Linked DNA regions of Homo sapiens: regions 2 and 3 are each linked to region 1. The links come from fine-mapping of genetic effects on gene expression. A gene starts in region 1. Each other region holds a variant in brackets. All regions are shown on one strand. Distances are from middle to middle.

What was found.
Region 2: its variant is fine-mapped to the expression of CLSTN1 in whole blood (TOPMed, PIP above 0.99).
Region 3: its variant is fine-mapped to the expression of CLSTN1 in whole blood (INTERVAL, PIP above 0.99).

What each region holds. Positions count from the first base shown.
Region 1 is chr1:9,818,955-9,827,133 of GRCh38, forward strand. It overlaps CLSTN1 (calsyntenin 1), which reads right to left and starts at 5,011. Exons shown (of 19, transcript NM_001009566.3): 1 at 4,689-5,011. The coding sequence starts at 4,779. RefSeq lists silencers at 4,733-4,812, 4,823-4,972, 5,143-5,192, 5,213-5,272 and enhancers at 4,885-5,601, 6,662-6,721.
Region 2 is chr1:9,725,840-9,734,018 of GRCh38, forward strand. PIK3CD (phosphatidylinositol-4,5-bisphosphate 3-kinase catalytic subunit delta) reads left to right here. Exons shown (of 24, transcript NM_005026.5): 24 at 1,070-3,275. The coding sequence ends at 1,207. CLSTN1 (calsyntenin 1) reads right to left here. Exons shown (of 19, transcript NM_001009566.3): 15 at 8,133-8,179; 16 at 7,562-7,707; 17 at 5,922-6,057; 18 at 5,367-5,551; 19 at 3,087-4,866. The coding sequence ends at 4,669. Among named protein-coding and RNA genes, the nearest start is that of PIK3CD-AS2, 42 kb to the left of the region's middle. The variant C/T (reference allele first, on the strand shown) is at 3,214.
Region 3 is chr1:9,765,474-9,773,652 of GRCh38, forward strand. It overlaps CLSTN1 (calsyntenin 1), which reads right to left. Exons shown (of 19, transcript NM_001009566.3): 2 at 7,799-7,921. Among named protein-coding and RNA genes, the nearest start is that of CLSTN1, 54 kb to the right of the region's middle. RefSeq lists a silencer at 2,544-2,744. The variant G/A (reference allele first, on the strand shown) is at 4,133.

The sequences.
Region 1 (8,179 bases):
TTTTTGTATTTTTTTTTAGTAGAGACAGATGGGGTTTCACCGTGTTAGCCAGGATGGTCTTGATCTCCTGACCTCGTGATCCACCCACATTGGCCTCCCAAAATGCTGGGATTACAGGTGTGAGCCACCGCACCCGGCCCCTTCAAGCAAGTCTTCACACCAAATTAAGACCCACTAAAAAAACAAGTTTTAATGATCTAAGCCCTCAACCAGAATACATAAGAAATAGACTCTTGGCGGTTTTTTAGGATAATCAGATCTCTATTTTGTTTCAACTCTTATAAATGAAAACTACCCAAAAAAATTAAAAAACATACTTTCCTGTCTCAGAAAGCAATAATAAAAATAACTCAGTACTTTTTTTCCTTTGTTCTAAAATTTTAACCTATCTCAGCTTCCTCATTTTAAACATTTAGACTTGGTTTAATAAGCTTCACTAAGTCCTGCAGCTAGTGTTACGAAATTACAGCATTTTCTATTTTCAATGTAATATTTTATATCCCACAAAAATTTCATTTTTTGGTCATATTCTTCATAACTAAAACTGAAATATTATTTGCGTTTTTGGCTTGAATATCAAATACTGGCACAGATAATGTATGTTATGACCTCCTAAACCTTCCTTTTGAAAAATAATTCCTATAAAACTGCTTGGTTTCATGCTTTTTCTCCCAAAAGAAATATCCAGCCAAAGGACGAATTCCAGCTAACTGAAGGTTCCAGTTAACCGAGTGAATGCTCTAAAATTGGAATATATTCAAAATTGTTCGTATTTTATTATTTCTTCAGCAGTTATAGGTCTCCTTTGAGAAATAAATGTTATTTACTTTCAGTATTAAAAATGTTAGACTATGGGTAATACTGAGGTCTATATTCGAACGACTTTTTTCCACATCGTTACTTCTGAAAAAACGAGGTAACAAATTAAGAAACCATCTTCCCAAAAAAGCTGAAAATTATAGTATTTTTAAAGGGACTAACAGGGGTAGCCACAGAGCTACAGCCTTCAAAGGCTGAGACAGAGTTTCATGATCTAATATCCCCAATACTGCAACCAACAGAATTGATCCTTGAACTTTTTTTTTTTTTTTGGTATTTTTGTAGTGACAAGGTTTCACCATGTTGCCCAGGCTAGTCTCAAACTCCTGGGCTCAAACAATCTGCCTGCCTAGTTCTCCCAAAGTGCTGGAATTACAGGGGTGAGCCACCGAGGCTGGCCCCATGATCCTTGAAAATTTACCCACTAATGAATTCCCATATCGACACTGCAGAATTTAAGTTTGGGCCGGGTGCAGTGGCTCACACCTGTAATCTCAGCACTGTGGGAGGCAGAGGCAGGCGGATCACTTGAGGTCAGAAGTTCAGACCAGCCTGGCCAACATGGTGAAACCCTGTCTCTACTAAAAATACAAAAATGAGCCCAGTGTGATGGCATATGCCTGTAGTCCCAGCTACTGGTGAGGCTGAGGCAGAAGAATCTCTTGAACCCGGGAGGCGGAGGTTGCAGTGAGACAAGATCGCGCCATTGCACTCCAGCCTGGGTGACAGAATGAGACTCTGTCACAAAAACAAAAACAAACAAAAAAAAAACTTAAGTTTGCTTTACACTATGTAATTTTTTTCAGTATATAGCATTTATCTGTAAAGTGAAAATTAGGATGCAAAGCTACTACGCTGTCTAAACTGAAATGCTGTTATCCATCCACCCATTCATTCATTCAATCACACAATACTGGCATGCCTCTGGTGTGCTGGTGACGGGAAACATATGCAAAGCAGATACCCTTCCATCTTGGGGCATATGTTCTACTGAGGGGAAACAGACGATAAACAATTCAATAAGTAAACAACAAGGCATGTTAGAATGGGCTAAGTGCTATGCAAAAAGAAAAAGTGTTGCAGGGAAACAGGATTTAGGGGTTCAGGAAGAGAAATTATTTCAAATAGGATGGTGAGGGGAGGTCTCACTAAGCCTATGTGCAAATGGAAAAGTAACAGTGAATTTTATGTATTAAGTGGCTTCGAAATGCATTACATGGTTGCATTTTTTAAATATTCATATAAGCTTTCTATTTTCTCTGCTTCACTGTTCTATTTCCCGATCTCCATGAAGAAGGCAGGTAGCTGAAGGACATGACCGTCCAGGGCATGCCAAAGATATTTCTTCTAATATTTTGGCTTACTGAATTTGTTTTTAAGATGGAGTCTTGCTTTGTCACCCAGGCTGGAGTGCAGTGGCGCAATCTCGGCTCACTGCAACCTCCGCCTCCTGGGTTCAAGCAATTCTCCTGCCTCAGCCTCCCAAGTAGCTGGAGTTACAGGCGTCCACCAGTACACCCAGCTAATTTTTATATAGTTAGCAGAGATGGGGTTTCACCATGTTGGCCAGGCTGGTCTCGAACTCCTGACCTCAGGTGATCCGCTGGCCTCGGCCTCCCAAAGTGCTGGGATTACAGGCGCAAGCCACTGCACCCAGCTCTACTCAATGTTTTTTGAGAACTACAGCTATAATTAAAATAAAATTTGAGGGTCTCTACAAAACTAAGAGTCAAGATGCAATTTATATTAGAAAATCTATCATTTTCTGCAGCAGTCTGTACGTAATCTAACATTAACAATGATTAAAGGTAGCTACAGCATGAACAGGAGTTCATGTCGTACTGCCTTACAGCCGTAAAAAATTCAATTAGTTGAAATGATCTCTTAAAACGAGCCCACAGAGTGTCTCCAAACTGTAAATTTACATATGAAATTCACTTGTAATATTTCAAAATGAAATTGTTTATTAGCATTTCGTGTAATTCCAAGACATTTTCTAACTTGCAACCTGAAAAAAATGCATACGAATAACTGATGTGTAAAATGTCTTTATTCCGAAGACTAAGAATCTTGAACTACTGTAACTGCACCAAGAAAAACTTAGAGAAAGCAAATTACAAATGACTCAACTAGCCAACACACCTTTCACACAAGATTTCTGTCGGTCTCAGGTAATGAAGATATTCAAAGTTGAAATGTATGCTGTTTAAGTAACCAAGGCAATTAAATAATGACTAACAAATGTAGGTGCTATTTAAGAAAGCACCAATTTTAACAAGAAATGGTATCACTGACTAAATATACTTAAACTGTTCCCAAAATACCCAATCCAAGCACATATTTTTAAAATGTGTGGGTTTTCCCCAAGAGAAGCAAAACTTTTGACATTTCTCTTGGATATATTAGAGTTTCAGACCTCCAACCCACATCTGGAAAGAACATTTCAAACTTAGCTTGATGTTACTTTTAAAAATCAAATGGCCAGCAATGAGATACTTAGTGACTAAGATCTGAATTTGACAGAGTCAACAGAATGTTAGAAATGAAATAAAAGAAGTATTCAAAGTTTATCATCCTCGATGTTTAGAAAGGAACATGGAACAAAAGATGCATTTGCCGCCTCTGCCCTTTAATTCGTGAACACCATACTTCTCTCCTTATGTCACGCCAGGGAAGGGAAAATAAGAATTTTTAAAAAGCTTGCTAAATTCAAATATGACCATTTCATCTAGATTTCTATCAATCCTCCTCCCCAAAATTTCTTTTGATTAAAAAAAAATCAGAACAACAGATTTAAGCCTACAGTAGATTCTACAGACTACACCTAGATTACTCTGCTCTAAGGCCAAGGAAAATGTTTACGATTTCAAGATCCACTCAGAAGCAAATACTGTATCTGCAATGCGTAAGCTTTTCGTTGGCAAGACCAGTCAATAGCAGAGGCATGCAAGGTTTAAAAGGTTAAGTGGATGAAGGTTAAAAGCTAATAATAAATTAGCCAAGAAATACTACTTCCCACCGAGCCATAAAATAATTTCGGTCCTACAATCCTAAAAAACCAGAGAGGTTTCTCGTTTTTGTAGAGAACATCTAACCCTCCACGGTCTAAATGACCGTCAGAAAAACAGCACCAAGGCACCAGGGGTAGCAGAGACGGAGATTTCTAACACTGGGTGAGCCCGCGGTCGCAAATCTCATCGCGATTTCACCTTTGGGTGAAAAGGTGGGAGGGAAGCACTAAGTTTCAGCCTCGGCTCCACTGGAAACAGACAACGTCTGAAGGACTCTGGGAGGAGGCGGAAAGGGGCGAAGTCGTGGTGTCCGCGGTGCAGCAACACAGAATCGGGATCTTGGAAACGGGATGCGGAGGAGTGGGCTCTTATGTAAGCACACACCAAAACTGTGCGTGCACCCCCCGCCTGATGCACATCTGAGCACACGTACACAGAGCATCTCACCCAGGGGTGCAGCCCCAGCCTGCGTGCGCCGCTGAGCAGGGCGGACTGACCCTTCGGCCCGTCTGCACGTTCCCCCAAATCAGCGCAGCCACCACCATGGGCTGCAGTGGGGGCAGCCCAGGCTCAGGAGCCCCGCCCGGGACGGAGCCTGGCTTCCCCGGGACGCCTGCAGCGCGCGCCCACAGTCTCCTGCGCCCTGGCCCCGGCTCCGCGAGCCCGACCCCCAACCCGAACCCCACGCCCTGACCCGGCTCCCTGCGCTCGGACCCGACTCCCCGCATCCCGGCTCGAATCCCGGCATCCGGCCCTACTCCCGCACCCGGACCCGAATCCCCGCACCGGGACCCGAATCCTGCACCCGGACCCGAATCCCGCACCGACCCAGCGGCCCGGCCCAGCCCCGGGGCTTACCTCGCGCGGCCCAGACCCCGCCGCCGCACAGCAGCCCGGCCAGCAGCAGCCGGGCGGCCGGGGCCAGCGCGGGAGCGGGGCGGCGCAGCATCGCCAGCCCGGGGCGGGAGCGGCAGGGAGGCGCGCGGGACGCCGAGCGGAGCTCTCGGAGCTCTCGGGGCTCTAGGGGCCTGGGGCTAGCTGCTCCGCGGCGCGGGGAGCTCCGGGGGTCCAAGGAGGAGCCGCCGCCGCCGCCGCCGTGACGCTGGGCCGCGCGCTCAGGACGCGGCGCCCTCCCCGCCTCAGAGCAGCGTCTTGCTGAAGGCAGCGGCAGCAACTAAGATGGCGGCGGCGCTCTCTCTCGGGTCCGGCGAGGGTACCCGGCCGGGGGCGGGGTGGCGGCGGGAGGGGCGGGGATGGGGAGCGACGCGAGGCGCGCGCGCGGCGGACCCTGGGAGCGCGCGGGCCCGGGAGGGGCGGGGGAGAGGAGCGGAGGGAGCGCGCGCGGCGGACCCGGCAGCGGGCGCGCGCCTCCGAGCCCGTCGGCCCCGCCTGGAGCGCGCGCCCGCGGGGACGCGCCTGGGGTGGGTTCCGAGCGGCCGGGAGGGGCCCGGGGGACTGTATCCCTTTCCCTGGCCGCAGATGGAGAGCCTCAACTCCGCGTCCCTACGCGCGCTCCCGGGCTCCTAAGGCCGGGTGAGCGGTACCCGGGGACCCGCTCCTCCTTCTCCACCCCGAGGACTCATCCTTCCCACCCGCTCCGCCGAGGAGCGCAGACCCCGGCGGAGCAGTGCGGCCCAGGACCCTTGTCACTTCGGGCAGGTCGCGTCGCCCCCCAGAACCTCGGGGTCCTCGTCTCCCCAGTAGAGGTGTTGAGAGGGGTCACGAAAGGGGGTCCAGGAGACGAGGTCAGCGAAACGCGCCTGGTAAACAGTTAAGGGCCGCGCAGCACTACCCACACCGGCTCCCGCCCCGGGACCTGCCCCCGGGGAGTCTGTCCTGAATTCACTGAAGGAATCTATTTGTGACTTTCAAAAGGCGGCTGGTGTGCGCGCTCTTTCTCAGTGACATGGTGCGATGCTGGTTCTTAGAAATGCGGAGGTCCGAATGGATAGAGAGGACAGAGAAGCCCTCCCCCTCTACCGTGGATCCCTACAGGGATCTTGGGGTCCTCCCAATTTCCCAGCGTCCAGCGGCCCCCTCCTCCTCGCCTCTGGACCCCTGGCACCCCCCCGCAGTGGAGGAAAGGCCTGGAACAGCCGTGGATGGGCGTGTGTGCAGGCACTGTACCCTATGAGACACTACTGGCTCCATTTTGCAGATAAGGAAACTAAGTCAGAAAGGTGAAATGACTTCCCCCGTTGGGACAACTATTGTAAAAAGAATCAGCCCTCAAGGACAGGATGTTCGCATTAGGGGGACACCAACAGCAAAAAGTGGAACCCTAAAATGTTCATTTTTCGAGACCGCTGGAGGAGCTATCCATGAATGTCACTGCTCCAGGTGGGGGTGGAGGAGGCTGGCAGCACTGGAGGCTGGGTGGAGACTGGTTTGTGGGGCGCAGAGGACTTATTTAGGAGACTAGTGGGCAAAGAGCCCAAAAACGTAGACTGAGGTCAGATTGGGGGAATGGACTTGATCCTACAGTCAACAGGAAGACCTGGAACGGCTGGGAACAGCGGTGTGATGTGACCTGGGGAAGGCTTCAAAAGCAATCTGGAATCCAACTCCCTGAGCCGTGTTCCCCGTAAGCGTCCTGCACCAAAGCCTACAGATTCCATCTTGTTAATGTCTCTCCTTCCTTCCCCTGCTCCCCCTCCCCTGCGTGGAGGAAGACCGGACTCTCCTTGGCTGGACCCTTCCCAAAGCACCTGCCTGGCCCGGGCAGGCTCCAAGCCACACCCACCACTCCTTCCAGCCAAGGCTTTGAGTCATCCTCTCCCCTGGTGACGGGTGTTGCCATTGCTTCTGCCCCTCCTGGAGTTATAAACTCAGTGAGTGCCTCCCTGCTGCCACCTCGTCAGGTCCAGACATCTCTGCTGGGCTTCCCATCCTCCACCCAGCTGACCTCAGGGCATGCTGTCTGCCACTGTCTCTTCTTATTCATTCCCCTCCCAGGGCCAACATCACACTTCCTCCTCCACCCATACCCAAGCCTCAGGTCCTTACAAGGAGCTTCTGGGCTGTCTCCTTCAGGAAGTCCTCCTGCCAGCCCTCCCTCTCCAGCCCCGAGCTGCTCTAACCAAACAGTTCAGCTTTATAATCTGCTGCCTGTGCTGTCGACTGACTAATCCATCAGTGTCCTTTTCTCCTCCCCACTGTATTCTAGTGGGAAGGACCCAGATGGTCTAGTCAGACGGGACTGGACTTCAGTGCTGGCCTCTGCAAATGCAAACGACCTTGGCCAGGTTATGGAACTTTCAGAATCTCCTCACCTGCGAAATGGAACAATATGTACTTCTTAGAGTTGTGAGAATTAAATGAAATGATGCCACATAGATCTAGAAATACCAGGCTTTATGTGGCAAATAAATGAAAGTGCCACATAGAGCCTGGTGTTTCTAGATACATGAGTTTCTTTTTCCCTTCAAGAAGAAGGCTTCTGTGCTTCTAGTATACCAGCGATCAGAGTAGGTACTCAATAAATAGTGATGAACTCAATGAATTGCTGAGTTAGGTTTTATTATTATGGAGCTCACATCTCAGAGGGTGAAAAAAGATGTACCCTGTAGATTTCCAGGGACCTTCGAGATTTGCAAAACATAAAATCGGAAAGGTATAATCTCAGAACTATGTTTTCAGTCCATAGACTGATGATGCCAAAAGGGGAAATTTAATGTGTTCAGTTCTATTAAAAACACAAACAAAAGCTCTTCAGTGTCTGGAATCCTGATCCCTTTATCTTCTCACCCTTACTGTCCCTTAAAGAAACAGAGATAGGTCAAAAAGATCCAGCGTCAGGTGGGGCAGATAGACGGCTTGGTGAGCTCAGTGCAACCTGCACCTGCTGGGATTTCACCCACATGAGAGTGAGTCCAGCTTGAAAGTCTCGGAAACGGGGGAACCAGTAAACTCAGTTTCTGCTCTGCCTGACAATAGCCTCAGCCACATTGGCACATTTCAAAGGTTTCCCCCATGATGGATTAGTTAATCCTCCAAATGGCCCTGAGACAGGGATCGATTCAGGCTTATGCTATGGTTAGCTGGGAGAGGGGCCTTGCCTGAGCTGAGCCAGCCACTGACAAAGTGGCAGCATCAGAGGCCCTGGAGCCATGGGGAATGAGGCATCACCCAGGCCCATCCTGAACTGGGAACATAGACTTGAGGATAAGGAGGTGACTTTGTTAGCTAGTGGAGGAAGATCTGTACTTTTGAATGTATAGTGACTCTATCTGAGACAGTAGATGAAGCGCACACAAGAAAATTTTCCAAGATGCTGCACCTTCTGAGATGACTGTTGCTGATACCATATCACAATAACATATCATCTGTAACTCCAGCAACACTCTCCA
Region 2 (8,179 bases), 93 kb before region 1:
GCACTCTAGCCTGGGCAACAAAGGCAAAACTCCGTCTCAAAAAATAATAATAAAATAAAAATAAACATAAATAAAAGATATTTTTCCAGGCTGGGCATGGTGGCTCATGCCTCCGTAATCCCAGCACTTTGGGAGGCTGAGGCAGGTGGATCACCTGAGGTCAGGAGTTTGAGACCAGCCTGGCCAACATGGTGAAACCACATCTCTACTTAAAATACAAAAAATCAGCCAGGCATGGTGGCACATGCCTGTAATCCCAGCTACTCATGAGGCTGAGGCAGAAGAATCACTTGAACACGAGAGACTGAGGCTGCAGTAAGCCTAGATCGCGCCACTGCACTCCAGCTCGGGTGACAGAGCAAGACTCTGTCTCAAAAAGAAAAAATTGGCCGGGCACGATGGCTCAGGCCTGTAAACCCAGCACTTTGGGAGGCCAAGGCGGGTGAATCATGAGGTCAGGAGATCGAGACCATCCTGGCTAACACGGTGAAACCCCGTCTCTACTAAAAAATACAAAAAATTAGCCAGGTGTGGTGGCGGCTGCCTGTAGTCCCAGCTACTTGGGAGGCTGAGGCAGAAGAATCACTTGAACCTGGGAGGCGGAGGTTGCAGTGAGCCGAGATCATGCCCCTGCACTCCAGCCTGGGCGACAGAGTGAGACTGTCTCAAAAAAATGTATATATACAGATACATATGTATTTTTTTTCCTTCTTGTGTCCTCTCCATGTGAGAAGGTGGGATGGGGCGGTGAGGCTGCTGGGGCCACACATGCTTGCCAGGACCTTCCCTCTGGTGACCAGTCCCTGCAAAAGCAGCTGCTCCCATGCTCCTCCCAGAGCCATTTCTCCAGTAGGGGAGGCGAGGTCACTTGGGAACTGGGGGCTCTGGGGCCAAGATGTCTTTGGCACCTTCATTTGAGGGTGGGAGCGGAATAGAGAGCTTTTCCTGAGATGCTGGGAGCTCTCTACTAACCATTTCATTCAGTGACTCTGAAGTCCCCAGAGAGGGACGCATCCCAGAGCAAGGTCCGGGCCCCCTTAACGTGGACACCGCTGTGATTTGTTTGCAGGACTCCCTGGCACTGGGGAAAACAGAGGAGGAGGCACTGAAGCACTTCCGAGTGAAGTTTAACGAAGCCCTCCGTGAGAGCTGGAAAACCAAAGTGAACTGGCTGGCCCACAACGTGTCCAAAGACAACAGGCAGTAGTGGCTCCTCCCAGCCCTGGGCCCAAGAGGAGGCGGCTGCGGGTCGTGGGGACCAAGCACATTGGTCCTAAAGGGGCTGAAGAGCCTGAACTGCACCTAACGGGAAAGAACCGACATGGCTGCCTTTTGTTTACACTGGTTATTTATTTATGACTTGAAATAGTTTAAGGAGCTAAACAGCCATAAACGGAAACGCCTCCTTCATGCAGCGGCGGTGCTGGGCCCCCCGAGGCTGCACCTGGCTCTCGGCTGAGGATTGTCACCCCAAGTCTTCCAGCTGGTGGATCTGGGCCCAGCAAAGACTGTTCTCCTCCCGAGGGAACCTTCTTCCCAGGCCTCCCGCCAGACTGCCTGGGTCCTGGCGCCTGGCGGTCACCTGGTGCCTACTGTCCGACAGGATGCCTTGATCCTCGTGCGACCCACCCTGTGTATCCTCCCTAGACTGAGTTCTGGCAGCTCCCCGAGGCAGCCGGGGTACCCTCTAGATTCAGGGATGCTTGCTCTCCACTTTTCAAGTGGGTCTTGGGTACGAGAATTCCCTCATCTTTCTCTACTGTAAAGTGATTTTGTTTGCAGGTAAGAAAATAATAGATGACTCACCACACCTCTACGGCTGGGGAGATCAGGCCCAGCCCCATAAAGGAGAATCTACGCTGGTCCTCAGGACGTGTTAAAGAGATCTGGGCCTCATGTAGCTCACCCCGGTCACGCATGAAGGCAAAAGCAGGTCAGAAGCGAATACTCTGCCATTATCTCAAAAATCTTTTTTTTTTTTTTGAGATGGGGTCTTCCTCTGTTGCCCAGGCTGGAGTGCAGTGGTGCAATCTTGGCTCACTGTAACCTCCGCCTCCCAGGTTCAAGTGATTCTTCTGCCTCAGCCTCCTGAGTAGCTGGGATTACAGGTGTGCACCACCGTACCCAGCTAATTTTTGTATTTTAGTAGAGACGGGGGTTTCACCATGTTGGCTGGGCTGGTCTCGAACTCCTGACCTCAGGTGATCCACCCGCCTGAGCCTCCCAAAGTGCTGGGATTACAGGCATGAGCCACCGCGCCCGGCCCACTCTGCCATTGTCTAAGCCACCTCTGAAAGCAGGTTTTAACAAAAGGATGAGGCCAGAACTCTTCCAGAACCATCACCTTTGGGAACCTGCTGTGAGAGTGCTGAGGTACCAGAAGTGTGAGAACGAGGGGGCGTGCTGGGATCTTTCTCTCTGACTATACTTAGTTTGAAATGGTGCAGGCTTAGTCTTAAGCCTCCAAAGGCCTGGATTTGAGCAGCTTTAGAAATGCAGGTTCTAGGGCTTCTCCCAGCCTTCAGAAGCCAACTAACTCTGCAGATGGGGCTAGGACTGTGGGCTTTTAGCAGCCCACAGGTGATCCTAACATATCAGGCCATGGACTCAGGACCTGCCCGGTGATGCTGTTGATTTCTCAAAGGTCTTCCAAAACTCAACAGAGCCAGAAGTAGCCGCCCGCTCAGCGGCTCAGGTGCCAGCTCTGTTCTGATTCACCAGGGGTCCGTCAGTAGTCATTGCCACCCGCGGGGCACCTCCCTGGCCACACGCCTGTTCCCAGCAAGTGCTGAAACTCACTAGACCGTCTGCCTGTTTCGAAATGGGGAAAGCCGTGCGTGCGCGTTATTTATTTAAGTGCGCCTGTGTGCGCGGGTGTGGGAGCACACTTTGCAAAGCCACAGCGTTTCTGGTTTTGGGTGTACAGTCTTGTGTGCCTGGCGAGAAGAATATTTTCTATTTTTTTAAGTCATTTCATGTTTCTGTCTGGGGAAGGCAAGTTAGTTAAGTATCACTGATGTGGGTTGAGACCAGCACTCTGTGAAACCTTGAAATGAGAAGTAAAGGCAGATGAAAAGAAAGAAAAAGCCTTTTTATGTTCTTTTATGTTCTCGGCTCAAAAAGAAACAAGGGAGTGTAGGTTTAAAACCAAAACAGGAGAGAAGACAAACCCCGCTCCGGCTGGAGTTAGTTAGAACCAGAACTTTATTGTAG[C/T]GGATACACTTTCTGACCTATCATGAGTATACACATCTGCGAAGGGAAACCGCGCGGCGACAGCGTGAGGACATCCCCTGGGCGTGAGCGTCTGTCCGCTGTCTAAACAGAGCAGCTACAGGGACGGGACATGGAGGATGGCCACACATAGCACAGCCACCAGTGTCCTCAGAACTAGCAGTCAGGGTCACAGAACAGTATTCAAAATGATTGCCCACCTGTTTTAGAAATCTAAAATTTTACATGTAACTAAGAGCAAAGTGCTATGTGGGTTTTAGACCATGACTGTTTGTTTGCTCTCCTGCCCTACCACCAAGCAAAGCAGCAGGGCTCCTGGGGGAGAGGGATTTCAACCCCCCTGATGGCAGGGGGTGCTCTGGGGAGGAGAGAGGAGAGAACAGGCTGTTTTGGAAAATTCCAGCACTTTGACTTCGGGCCATGCGTCTCTCCTGGACGTTCTGAGTACGGATCGCTCAGGCCTCCTGCCGTCTCCAAAAGGAGTGGTCAGCCGGTCTGCAGGACACCTCTCAGTTTCTCCTTTTACCAGCAGGAAAATGTACATTTAAGCATAAACCACAAGGCTGCACACGGTGAGACCAGGCCACTGCCCAGGGAGCTGCTGTCGGAGGAGGAGTGTGGAAAAGGGGCCAGGGACCCCGCACCCCACACCAAATTAGGAACAGGTAGAATCCCAAAGGCAAGGCCCGGCCACTTGTAGCTACCCTGATCCAGTCTCTTGAGCAGCACAGCTAGAGGCCTGTGGCCCCCGACTCCCAGCCATACTCAGACCTGAGCAGGGGCTGGGGCGGGGCTGGGCGGGGTGGGCCTCTCCCTCTGGGGTCTGGGGAGGGAGGACCCGGCGGGAAGAGCCCGTGCTCAGAGCTCCGAACTTCACTTTACATTCCAGTCCCGGGTTACACTAGCACAAAGGACACAAGGAATCCGATTTATTTACAAAATATTAAAAAGTCAGTTAATCATCTACACAGTACCCCCCATCCTGCCATTATTTATACATGCACTAGTTTGGAAAAAATAAAAACTTTTTTTAAAAAAAGAAAAAAATGATTACCGGGTGGGAGTGAGCATGTTTTACCCTTTGTCAACGAGCCCAGCTGGCATGGCTTTTCTGGAGTGCGAGGGGCCAGTGTCCTCTCCCCGGGGGGAGACTCCAGACACAAACGCGGGGCCTGAGGCGCTGGGAGGCCCCTGTGCGAGCCGGATGGCGGCCAGAGAGGACGTGTCAGCTCCTCGTGGGACTGAAGAGCGCGACCAGGCAGAGGGTGGGCGGGGAGCCTAGGGTCCTACACACCAAGCACAGCGACGATCGTGGCGGGGAGGGGTCTGCACACCTACTGGCCGAAATGACTTTGTACATCGTGGACCCTTGGGACTGGGAGAACGGATGGCAGCAGAGTCTTCGAAAGCAGAAACCGAGGTGGCCGGGGGCACGGGTCAGTAGCTGAGGGTGGAGTCATCCCACTCCAGCTGCTGCTGCCGGGTTGCGTTCTGGGGGTCGCCCTGCTCCCCCTCCTCCTCCTCGCTGCTCTCCGACTCGGCGCTGGTGATGTCATCCTCTTCTTCGCCGTCCTCGCTTTCCTCTTCCTCTTCCTCTTCCTCCTCCTCCTCACTGCTGTGCTGGTCCTCATAGGTCTGGCAAGGAGAAGTGACGGCCACATGAGTCCGGCCCTGCCCACAGCCCCGTCACCTGGCATTCTCCTCTCGACAGCCACAGAGGAAGGAGAACTTGCCCCAGCGTCTCCCTCCCCAGCGACAGAGCAGCCAGGACGGCACCGGAAGTTATATTAGAAGTGAAGGGAAAACAAAGCTCCAGTCAGCACCCACGGAGTCACCCACATACAAAGCAGCTTGGGACAGCACCTCAGCTGCCCCACCAGAGAACTCTCTCAGGATTACCATGACCCAAGAGCGCCAAGCCCTGGCATGGCTCTTCTCTACACTTAAGGCAGAACGGCCTTGAATAAGGTCTCTCTCAGCCTCGGTTTACCCACGAAGACACCTAAGCCCCAGGCTTGCTGAGCAGATGACGCGATGGAAAGCATGTGAACCTGAAGGAGCCGCGCCGTACCGGCTTCTCGGAGGCCCTGGCCTGTGCTGCCTCTCAGTCCTGGAGGTCGCCCGCCCACTCCTACCTCCATGGGGTTGACGGTGATGGTCAGGGCAGAGTCGTCCCAGTCCATCTCGTTCTCCTTCCCGGTGTCCTGATCCCGCATGGTCCGCCGATGTGCGGCCCGGATCCGAAATACCCCCAGGATAATCATGAACACCAGGAAGCTGACGCACACCACGATCACAACTGTCGCAGTGCTGGGGACGACTGTGGGAGAATGAGGGGGCGGGATGCGAGGTCACTCGGCCCAGAAGGCCACTGTGCCCTTGACCTCCTCGGCTGTGCCTGGTCAAAACGGGCTGGACAGCACGCTTCAGCTGAACCCACAGGCCAGGAGGAAATACCAGGAAAAGCTCGCCATGGGCCTCCAACCTGGCTCGGCCACGTCCTGCTCCATGGCTGCGGGTGACATCATCTGCCCTCTTCGAGGGCTTTAGTTTCCTTGTGTGTGATGGGGAATAATTGGGACAGGGAAAGACCGGCGGTCATGCTGAGCAGGAGGCTGTGCCCACGGTGGGGTGGGGGCAGGGCGGACGGCATGGAGCATCTCCGCTTGGTCTCCCTCCCCATGTCCTACCTGCGAACGGGTGGGGGTTGGCCAGGTTGTGGCCTGACAGGTCAACAAAGGAGCGGTGTTCCGGGTGCACGAACTGTGGCTGGGCAGCCATGTGGTTGGCGTGTTCCATGGGGTTGGCCGTGTGGATTACATTCACCTATAGCAGAGAAAGAGAGGATCGCTGGAGACAGGCATCCTGAGCCTGTCCAAGAGGTGACAGTGGAGTCCCGCAGCTGGCATGACCAGTGCCACTCAGAGTGGCTCCTGGACCGCAGCTGGGGGCAAACGGAGCTACGGGAAAAGGACAGAAAAAAAAATCAAGAGTAAGCACTTAAAAAACAAAAACAAAGAAAAAGAAACAAAAACCAAACAAAAAAGAGTAATAAGCACTTAGAAACTGCTATAACAATCTAATATTCTCACACATTCCAGAAATGTATCACTTTTCTACTTATTAGTATTTGTTGAGACTGGGTCTTGCTGTGTTGCCCGGGCTGGAGCGCAGTAGCTATTCACAAGCATGATCACGGCTCACTGCAGCCTGGAACTTCCCTGCTCAAGTAATCCTCCCACCTCAGCCTCTCAAGTAGCTGGGACTACAGGCAAGCACCACGCACCTGGCTGCAATCCATTTTTATTGCATTTTATAAAAGATTATGCCCAAAACAAGAGCAGAAAAAGAAGCCGATGGTCCTTCCCCATGGGTCGTTTGGGAAGCACTGGCGTAGACCTTTTTCCTCAAATCACAGCCGTGTGAAAGACAGCACCAATCACTGCCATGGATTTCCTTTCATATCTCTTACCCTTTGACTCAAACAAAACAGGCACCGAATTTAGCATTCTGCTCTTGAGTTCATGGTGATATTCCATTGCTAAGAGTAACTTTGGGTCAATTTTCTCCAGGCCACAGAGAGCCTGAGCGATGAAGCAGCTGCTGGATAGGTCTGTAGACGACCTCAGAGCAGGAGGAGCTACCCTCTAGCCTGTGTGGCCTGTGAGTCACCAGCGCCAGCCTCAGCAGCACTGGTCCTGCCCGTGCGGGTCCCTGCGTGAGCCCCTCTCAACCTGGGCCGAGGACTCGACTTCATTCACAGGAGGGCCAGTGACCTGGCACAGATGCAGAGAACTTTTGGTTCCCTGGATGCTGCTCTTTCTAAAACAGTGTCTTTGGCTGGGCACAGTGGCTCACGCCTGTAATCCTAGCACTTTTGGAGGCCAAGGCAAGTGGATTGCTTGAACCTGGGGGGACAAGACCAGCCTGGGCAACATAGTGAGACCTCGTCTCTAAAAATAAATAAATAAATAAAACCACATCCTCCTGTTTCTCTCATGGGAAATCTCAAGAAGCCCCAGAGGCATTAACTGCCACTTGCTCTTTGTCACCTCCCTGCAAAGTTCCTTAGGCTCCAACTCAGGCTGAGGCAGCCAGGGAAAGGGGAGCACCCCCCACCCCAGCTCACCCCAAACACAACTTGTCACTCCAACAAGCCCAGGTGTAACCTGCAGCAGGCCCCAGGCTGGAAAGGCGACCCCCTAGAATGAGCCTGTATAGCTGCCATCATGAATGCTCTGAGGTTGGCGTTTGTGAATATTAGGGCTGCAAATCAGCGCCCTCACTCACTGCTGCTATTGGCCCTGCTCAGTGGGAGCCTTGTACTCACCTCCACCTTAAATTCGTTGCTGATGTAGCGGCCATTCAGCTCTGAGCAGATGAGCTTAAACTTCCGGTCAAGCAAGGACCTGGCATGCCAGTTCCGATAGCGCAGCAGGTGCAAAACCTCCTCGTAGCTGGCCATGGTGTCCACGCCTGCAGGGGTTGAAAGGGGGAAGATTGCCGGGTGGCTTAGGGCAGGAGCATGGGCAGGGCTGCAGCCGTCAGCACAGGCAGGCTCAATTAGACACCCAGGTTAGCTAGGCCAAGGGGTCACACAAGTTGGCTTTCTAGCCATGGGAATAAATGCAATGTGCACAGGGGCATTCTTCCCTCTGTGGGGGACGTGTCATCCCACGCCTCAACCCTCCCCCTTTAGAGAGTAGTGGCTACACATCCGGTACCTGTCCAGGAGACAGGAGTATGCGTGCAGCCAACAATGATCCCAGCGAACGTGCTCCTTCCCCATCTCCCTCTAAGATAACTCAACATTCTCAGATGGCAGGCAGCAGCCAGCCAAGAGCTCTCAAAGTCCCCTCTTGCAGCCTGGCCCACCTGCGTGGCTGCAGCGCTCCCCTTACCTGTGAAGGTCATGCCCAGTTCAGAGCTGCTCACTTCAATGCCCTTC
Region 3 (8,179 bases), 53 kb before region 1:
GAGTTTGAGACCAGCCTGGCCAATATGGTGAAACCCTGTCTCTACTAAAAATACAAAAATTAGCCGAAATCACTTGAACCCGGGAAACGGAGACTCCATCTCAAAAAAAGAAAAAAAAAAATGGAGGCCAGGCGCCGTTGCTCCACCTGTAATCCCAGCACTCTGGGAGACTGAGGCAGGTGGATCACCTGAGGTCAGCAGTTTGCGGCCAGCCTGGCCAACAAAGCGGAACCCTCCCTCTACTAAAAATACAAAAATTAGCCGGGCGTGGTGGCGGCGGGCGCCTGTAATCCCAGCTACTCAGGAGGCTGAGGCAGGAGAATCGCTTGAACCCGGGAGGTTGCAGTGAGCCAAGATCGCGCCACTGCACTCCAGCCTGGGCGACACAGCGAGACTCTGTCTCAAAAAAAAAAGGCAATTTCATGCAGGTCAACCAATTCACTGCTGCAAGCACAAGGTCAGCTCAGTTACATGTGCTAAAAAAGCAAAACTGGGCAGTGAAATGCAGCAGTTAACCCCACTGGCCACCCTCAGGGCATGTGAATCACATTCATAACAAAGAATACAGACAAGAGTATCACAGGGCTCCTCGGTGGGCTCTAACTGACTATCAATGAAAACTAAGTTCCCATTCTTGCCCTGAAACTTCTTTTGGATTCTATTTGTATCATTATGGTTCAACCAATCTTGTAAAACATCCATACTTAATCTGGAAAAGCAGGAAAGAGATTGCTAGAACACCACCACCTCCTAGAAGGAGGAGCTCTGAAGAGGAAACAAGAAGAGGAGGCACGGCTTCTGACAAGAACAGAATGCATCATCTTCAAGGCCCCAACCCTGTGGCCCACACATGAGGCTCAAGCTGGTAACTCTCCACGAAATATATAAAATGTAAACAAAATAGGCCGGGCGCGGTGGCTCACGCCTGTAATCCCAGCACTTTAGGAGGCCAAGGCGGAGGATCACTTGAGGCCAGGAGTTCGAGACCAGCCTGGCCAACATGGTGAAACCCCGTCTCTATTATAAATACAAAACATTAGCTGGCTCGTGGTGGTGCACGCCTGTGATCCCAGCTACTCGAGAGGCTGAGGCATGAGAATTGCTTGAACCCGGAAGGCAGAGGTTGCAGTGAGCCGAGATCGCGCCACTGCACTCCAGCCTGGGTGACAGAGCGAGACCCTGTCTCAAAAATAAATAGATAAATAATAAAATACAAAAATTGTTTTCTGACCCATGACTACTCAGGCTTTCAGCAGATTAAAGAGAAGGCGCAGAACAAGAAACTGAATCATTTAAATTTCCTAAAACACTTGACAAATACCAAGACTCTGTATCAGAATTTCACCCCAAGGAAACAATCCGGGCGAGACTGGATCTTCATTGTGAATGTCTGATTAGTGATGACTTACAAGGAGCTTCAATGACTAAGCTCCCAGCATTGCATGTGCATTCATTTCAGAGCTCTAACAAGTGAACTCCTGTGGCTACCCACACACACATGCCTTGTAGTGGGATCACACTATGAACTGGAATGTTCACACAGTGAGCTGGGCCCAGAGGCGGCTCTGTCACTTATGAGCTGTGTGATCCTGGGTAAACTCATCTCCTCCCTCTACAAATATCTATGGAGTGACTGTGTTCCAGGCACTGACGGAGGTTTTGGGGATAAAATGGAAAACAAAGTAGCTTCTCCTGCTGTCACGCAGCTGGCAGACACGCTGAGCCTGGTTCCTCACCTGGAGAACAGGGACAGTGGGCATGTCTACTGCGTAAGATTGGAGAAGAGAGGCTGGGCGCAGTGGCTCACGCCTGTAATCCCAGCATTTTGGGAGGCCGAGGCGGGCAGACTGCCTGAGCTCAGGAGTTCGTAACCAGCCTGGGGAACACGGTAAAACCCCGTCTCTAATAAAAATTACAAAAAATTAGCCAGGCATGGTGGCATGCACTTGTAGTCCCAGCTACTCGGGAGGCTGAGGCAGGAGAATTGCTTGAACCCAGGAGGCGGAGGTTGCAGTGAGCCGAGATAGCACCACTGCACTCCAGCCTGGGCAACAGAGCAAGACTCCATCTCAAAAAAAAAAAAAAAACCTGCTGAAAAGAATCGGAGAAAGTAACCCACACCGGGCCCTCAGAGCAACCTCTGCCACACTGCAGGCACTCAATAAACGTTAGATGCCACCACCATCACCACCCTCCTCCTCAACATGGTGCGAAATTAAACTCAATGTCATCACCCAAATCAATCTAAGATGAAAATAAGGCTCCAGGTCTAGCCTCTGTCTTATCCAAAAAATACTTAAGAAAGTCTGTAAGAAAATGCAACACTATAACGACTTTTGTAGAAAGATGAAAAAATATTTCTCACAAAATGTTAAGTGAAAAAATATTTTTAAAAGATTCTATTAGTAGTAATAACAGCAGCGGCAAATACTGTAGGTGGTAATTACTGTACCACCCACTGTTTAAAGCTCTTCACACGTATGAATAAAGAAGCTAACATTCCCCCAAACCAATGAGGTCTGTGACATTAATGAGGTCTGTGACATCTTATCCTTTTACAAATGATGAAATGGAGGCACAGAAAGGGTAAGTAATTTGCCTAAGGCCACACAGCCAATAAGTAGCAGAGCTACGATTCACTCACTGGTCCCTCGGCTCTAGGGTCTCTGTTCCTGACCTCCCTTGCTCAGTCTCATAGGGTCCTGTTCTGTGCTGGGTGGCACCATGGGGGCGGGGTTGTCCTGGACGGCACCATGGGGGCGGGGTTCTGTGTTCGGTAGCACCATAGGGATGGGGTTCTATGTTGGGCAAGATCATGGGGGCGGGGTTCTGTGCTGGGCGGCACCATGGGGGCGGAGTTCTATGTTGGGCGGCACCATGGGGGCGGGATTCTGTGTTGGGCGGCACCATGGGGGCGGGATTCTGTGTTGGGCGGCACCGGGGGGCGGGGTTCTGTGCTGGGCGGCACCAGGGGGGCGGGGTTCTGTGTTGAGCGGCACAATGGGGGTGGGGTTCTGTGCTGGGTGGCACCATGGGGTTGGCGATCTGTGTTGGGTGGCACCATGGGGGCGGGGTTCTGTGCTGGGTGGCACCATGGGGGCGGGGTTCTGTGCTGGGTGGCACCATGGGGGCGGGGTTCTGTGTTGGGTGACACCATGGGGGCAGGGTTCTGTGTTGGGTGGTATCATGGGGGCGGGGTTCTGTTAGGTGGCACCATGGGGGTGGGGTTCTGTGCTGGGTGGCACCATGGGGGTGGGGTTGTGTTGGGTGGCATCATGGGGGCGGGGTTCTGTGTTGGGTGACACCATGGGGGCGGGGTTCTGTGTTAGGTGGCACTATGGGGGCGGGGTTCTGTGTTGGGTGGCACCACGGGGGTGGGGTTCTGTGTTGGGTGGCACCAAAGCAACAGAAGAGGGAGGGAGGGAGGAAGCAACACAGGGAGAAAGTAAAGGAGAAAGGGAAAGAGGGAGGGAGGGAGGGAGGAAAAGGGGGAAGGAGGGAAGAAGGGATGGAAGGAGTGAGGGAGGGGGGAACAGAAGGAGGGAATGAGGGAGAGAGGGAGAAAGGGGAAAAGGGAGGGAGGGAGAGGGAGGGAGAGAGGAAGGAAAGGACAGAGGGAGGAAGCGAAGGAGGGAAGGAGAGAGAGAGGAAGGAAATGAGAGGGAGAGAGGGAGGGAGGAAGGGAGGGAAGGAAGGAGGGAGGGAGGTAAGGAGGGATACGGCTGCAGGTCAGGTGCTCCCTCCCCCCCATGCAGCTGCCCACTCCTCCAGCAGAGGACCCCACGCTTCAGTCAAGGGGATCAGTTGCACTCCTGTGTGTATACTAAAGGACTGAAAACCTATGTCCACACAAAGACCTGTACAGGAATGTTCACAGCAGCATGACCCATAATAGCCAAAAAGTAGAAGCAACTCAAATGTCCATCAGTGGATGAACAGAGAAACAAAATGTGATCTACTCATAGAATGAAATAATATCCAGCAACAAAAAAAGGAATGAGGGGCTGCTAGGCACCTAACACAGGTAAACTGTGAAATCACCATGCTGGGAGACGCCCATCACAAAAAGCCGTACAGTGCATTTACATGATTATCCAGAATAGAGAAATCTGTAGTGGTAGCCAGGGCTTGG[G/A]AGTGAAGGAGACTGAGGGATGAGTGCCACTTGGTGCAAGGGTTCCTTTTTGGGGTGATGAAAATGTTCTGGAGTTAGACAGTGGTTGGCAGGTGCATGGTTTTTGGAACATTCTAAAACTCAATGAGCTGTACACTTTAAAAGGGTGATTTTTTGGCAGGGCGCGGTGGCTCACGCCTATAATCCCAGCATTTTGGGAAGCCGAGGCAGGCAGATCACGAGGTCAGGAGATTGAGACCACGGTGAAACCCCATCTCTACTAAAAATACAAAAAATTAGCCGGGCGCGGTGGCGGACTCCTGTAGTCCCAGCTAATCGGGAGGCTGAGGCAGGAGAATGGCGTGAACCCGGGAGGCAGAGCTTGCAGTGAGCCGAGATCGCGCCACTGCACCCCAGCCTGGGCGACAGAGTGAGACTCCGTCTCAAAAAAAAAAAAAAAGGGTGATTTTTGTGGCATATGAATTATCTCCAAAAAAGAAAAAAGAAAGAAAAAATATTATATGAGTAACTGTGCTTCCCCCATGAAAATATCCAAAAGGAAAATATTGACTTATCTATCCACTATGGCAAATACAACCAAGTTACCACTATAATTGGATTTAAATTGCTTTTCTATACAGTTAAAATACATATCACAACATATAATTTTTGTACATCAGTAAAAAAAACCTGAGAATCTCTAAAAAATAAACTTGTATAAGTATTATTTCATCTAGAATATCTTAAGTTTGAGAAATACACAATAAAATTAAATACAGTAAGAAAAAAATATTTCATTGATAAGACTTTTTCTTTCAAAGTTAACACTCGGCGTACATTTCATTTCCTACTTCCTTGTGAACTTCGTGCAGTTAAAGATGTAGCTACGTCATCGTAGCAGGCAGCTGTCCCGCCTGGGCTGGAGCCCTGCCTCTGCACCCCCCGACCAGCTACACGCCCAGAGCAATAGCTTAACTATTCTGTGCCTCCGCTTCCTGCCTTTAATGCAGAAAAGCGTATTTATTATCTTATGGTTATTGGGGATTAAATACAAATTTATATTTGTACAGTACTTAGAGTAGTGCCTGGGACATTGCTATGCATGCTTTATAAGTGCATGCATTATTGGCTGGGTGTGGTGGCTCACGCCTATAATCCCAGCACTTCGGGAGGCCAAGGCAGGCGCATCACCTGAGGTCAGGAGTTCAAGACCAGCCTGGCCAACACGGTGAAACCCTGTTTCTAATAAAAATACAAAAATTAGCAGGGCATGGTGGCGGGCACCTGTAATCCCAGCTAATGGGAGGCTGAGGCAGGAAAATTGCTTGAATCTGGGAGGCGGAGGTTGCAGTGAGCCGAAATTGCACCACTGGACTCCAGCCTGGGCGACAAACTGAGACACCGTCTCAAAAATAAAACAAAACAAAATAAAATAAAATAGTGCATCAATTATTAACAACATAGTAAGATCACACTGCACGAACAACAGGACTGCTGATACTTCAAAAGGCAAAGGAGGACCTGAGGGAGCAAATACACAAGCCTGGACTGCAATCACTTCTTGAAATGCGTAAAACATCAGTAATGTATATAAAACTGCTCAAAAACATAAACTAAATAATTCTGTTAAAATGATCTATCCACTAGCACTTTGCAAGGCCAAGGCAGGTGGATCACCTGAGGCCAGGAGTTCGAGACCAGCCTGAACAACATGGTGAAACCTCGTCTCTACTAAAAATACAAAAATTAGGACGGGCATGGTGGCTTAAGCCTGTAATCCCAGCACTTTGGGAGGCCAAGGCGGGTGGATCACAAGGTCAGGAGTTCAAGACCAGCCTGGCCAATATGGTGAAACCCCATCTCTACTAAAAATACAAAAATTAGCTGGGCGTGGTGGCAGGCACCTGTAATCCCAGCTACTCAGGAGGCTGAGGCAGGAGAACTGCTTGAACCCGGGAGGCAGAGGTTGCAGTGAGCTGAGATTGCACCACTGCACTCCAGCCTGGGTGACAGAGCAAGACTGTTTCAGGAGAAAAAAAAAATGTGGGGGAAAAAGCAAAAATAATCACCCTGGCAACTGGACAAATGCTGTGTGTGTGTTCACGGCATGGGGTACTGCCTCTACTGTCCTTTTCATCAGAATTCTCTCTGAAAATTAATAAACACACAAAACAACTTGGGAGGCTCTATCTTTACAGCACAAGCTGGTTCACGGGTGACTGTGCTGAAAATGTGATGTGGCGCCTAAACAGAATGAAGTACAAATTTATTTTTCAAATAGTTCTTCAGAAACAAACTCATGTTTATTTCCTTCAACTTACTATAGTAAAATTAACATATGTTTCATACAAATTCATCCAATTTTTCTTATTTGTCCCTAGACAAATAGAACACTTTTTTTTTTTTTTCTGAGACAGAGTCTCACTCTGTCGCCCAGGCTGGAGTGCAGTGGCGCGATCTCGGCTCACTGCAAGCTCCGCCTCCTGGGTTCACGCCATTCTCCTGCCTCTGCCTCCGGAGTACCTAGGACTACAGGCGCCCACCACCACACCCGGCTTTTTTTTTTTTTTTTTTTTTTTTTTAGTAGAGACGGGGTTTCACCGTGTTAGCCAGGATGGTCTCGATCTCCTGACCTTGTGACCCGCCCGCCTCGGCCTCCCAGAGTGCTGGCACAGGCATGAGCCACTGTGCCCGGCCAGAACACTCTTTAATACGAGAAGTTTTTGTTTGTTTTGTTTTTTGAGATGGGGTCTTGCTCTGTTGCCCAGGCTGGAGTGCAGTGGTGCAATCAAGGCTCACTGCAGCCTCCACCTCCTGGACTCAAGCAATCCTCCTGCCTCAGCCTCCCACAGTGCTGAGATTACAGGCATGTCACTGTGCCCAGCCGTGCAGGAGAAGATCTGATCTGGAAAAATATGCGAAAACAACTCTTAAAAATTAACTTTACAATGTCAACTCCAACTCTGAGGCAGAAAAAAGGTGGCGCAGCCCATTCTCTACCAGTTAAGGACCCAACGTGAAGCCAGAACAGCTCTGACTTGGAAAATGCTATTAAGTGTTAGCAATGTACACGGTTATTACAGTATGAAAATCTCCAAAGCAATGCTACAGGTTTGTCTCTATAAAGACTGAGGCTACAATCTCATGTCTTTAAAATTCACTGAAGGTAAAATCTATGCCAAAAGCATTCCTCTATAAAGACCGCTCAACTTCTTCAAGTAAGTCTTCTCAGGTCATTGAAATCTAGGTAATGCAAGGAACCCCTGGCGCTGTGATTCTCCGGCTCCATGCCACTTGAGGACCAGCAACACCAGCAGTACCTAGGAGCAGGTGAGAAAGGCAGAATCTCAGGTCCTCCCAGACCCGCTGTCTCTACATTCCTCAGGTACTCCGTGTGCACCCTAGAGCCAGGGATGCACTGGTCTAGGAGTTATCTGGCTACATTAAGATAAAGAAAAAAATTATGCAATTAAATTAAACAGTTTGTTTTTCAACTATAAGAACAGGCCTTTTTGTCAGCTACCCCAACTATTAAAAGGAAAAAAAAACATGCTACAAAGGACGCTACAAATAACCCTCAGCTATGGAGACATTTTCAGAAACGCTCAGCATTACCCAAATGGGATGTGCAGAATGCTTCCTGACCAGGCCCGATTCATCAAGAGTCAATGAAAGCCCCGTTCCTACCTGCAAATCGCAGAGGCGCATCTTTATCCAGCGCGATCAGTGGGGGGTCGAGGAGCACGGTGTTGTCGTTCTCTGTGACTATGCCGTGGTAGGTGGGCTCCAGCCAGGGCTTGTGCTTGTTAACTGTGTTTAAAACAAGAGAAAAAAATAGACAAGGTTAGAAATATTATTTTCAACTCCACTACTTTTGAAGACACACACCTGCTATTAAAATAATAAAACTCTCATTAGGCTTGAAGACAGTGCTCACAGTTCTGTCGCAAAATTTGGTATCAAGACCCAAATGAGATGAAATTCTAAATTCCAGAATAAGTAATGTTGAAATTATCTGAATCCATGAAGCAACCAGAAATAAGAAATAAATTGCTCTAGAAATCAAGG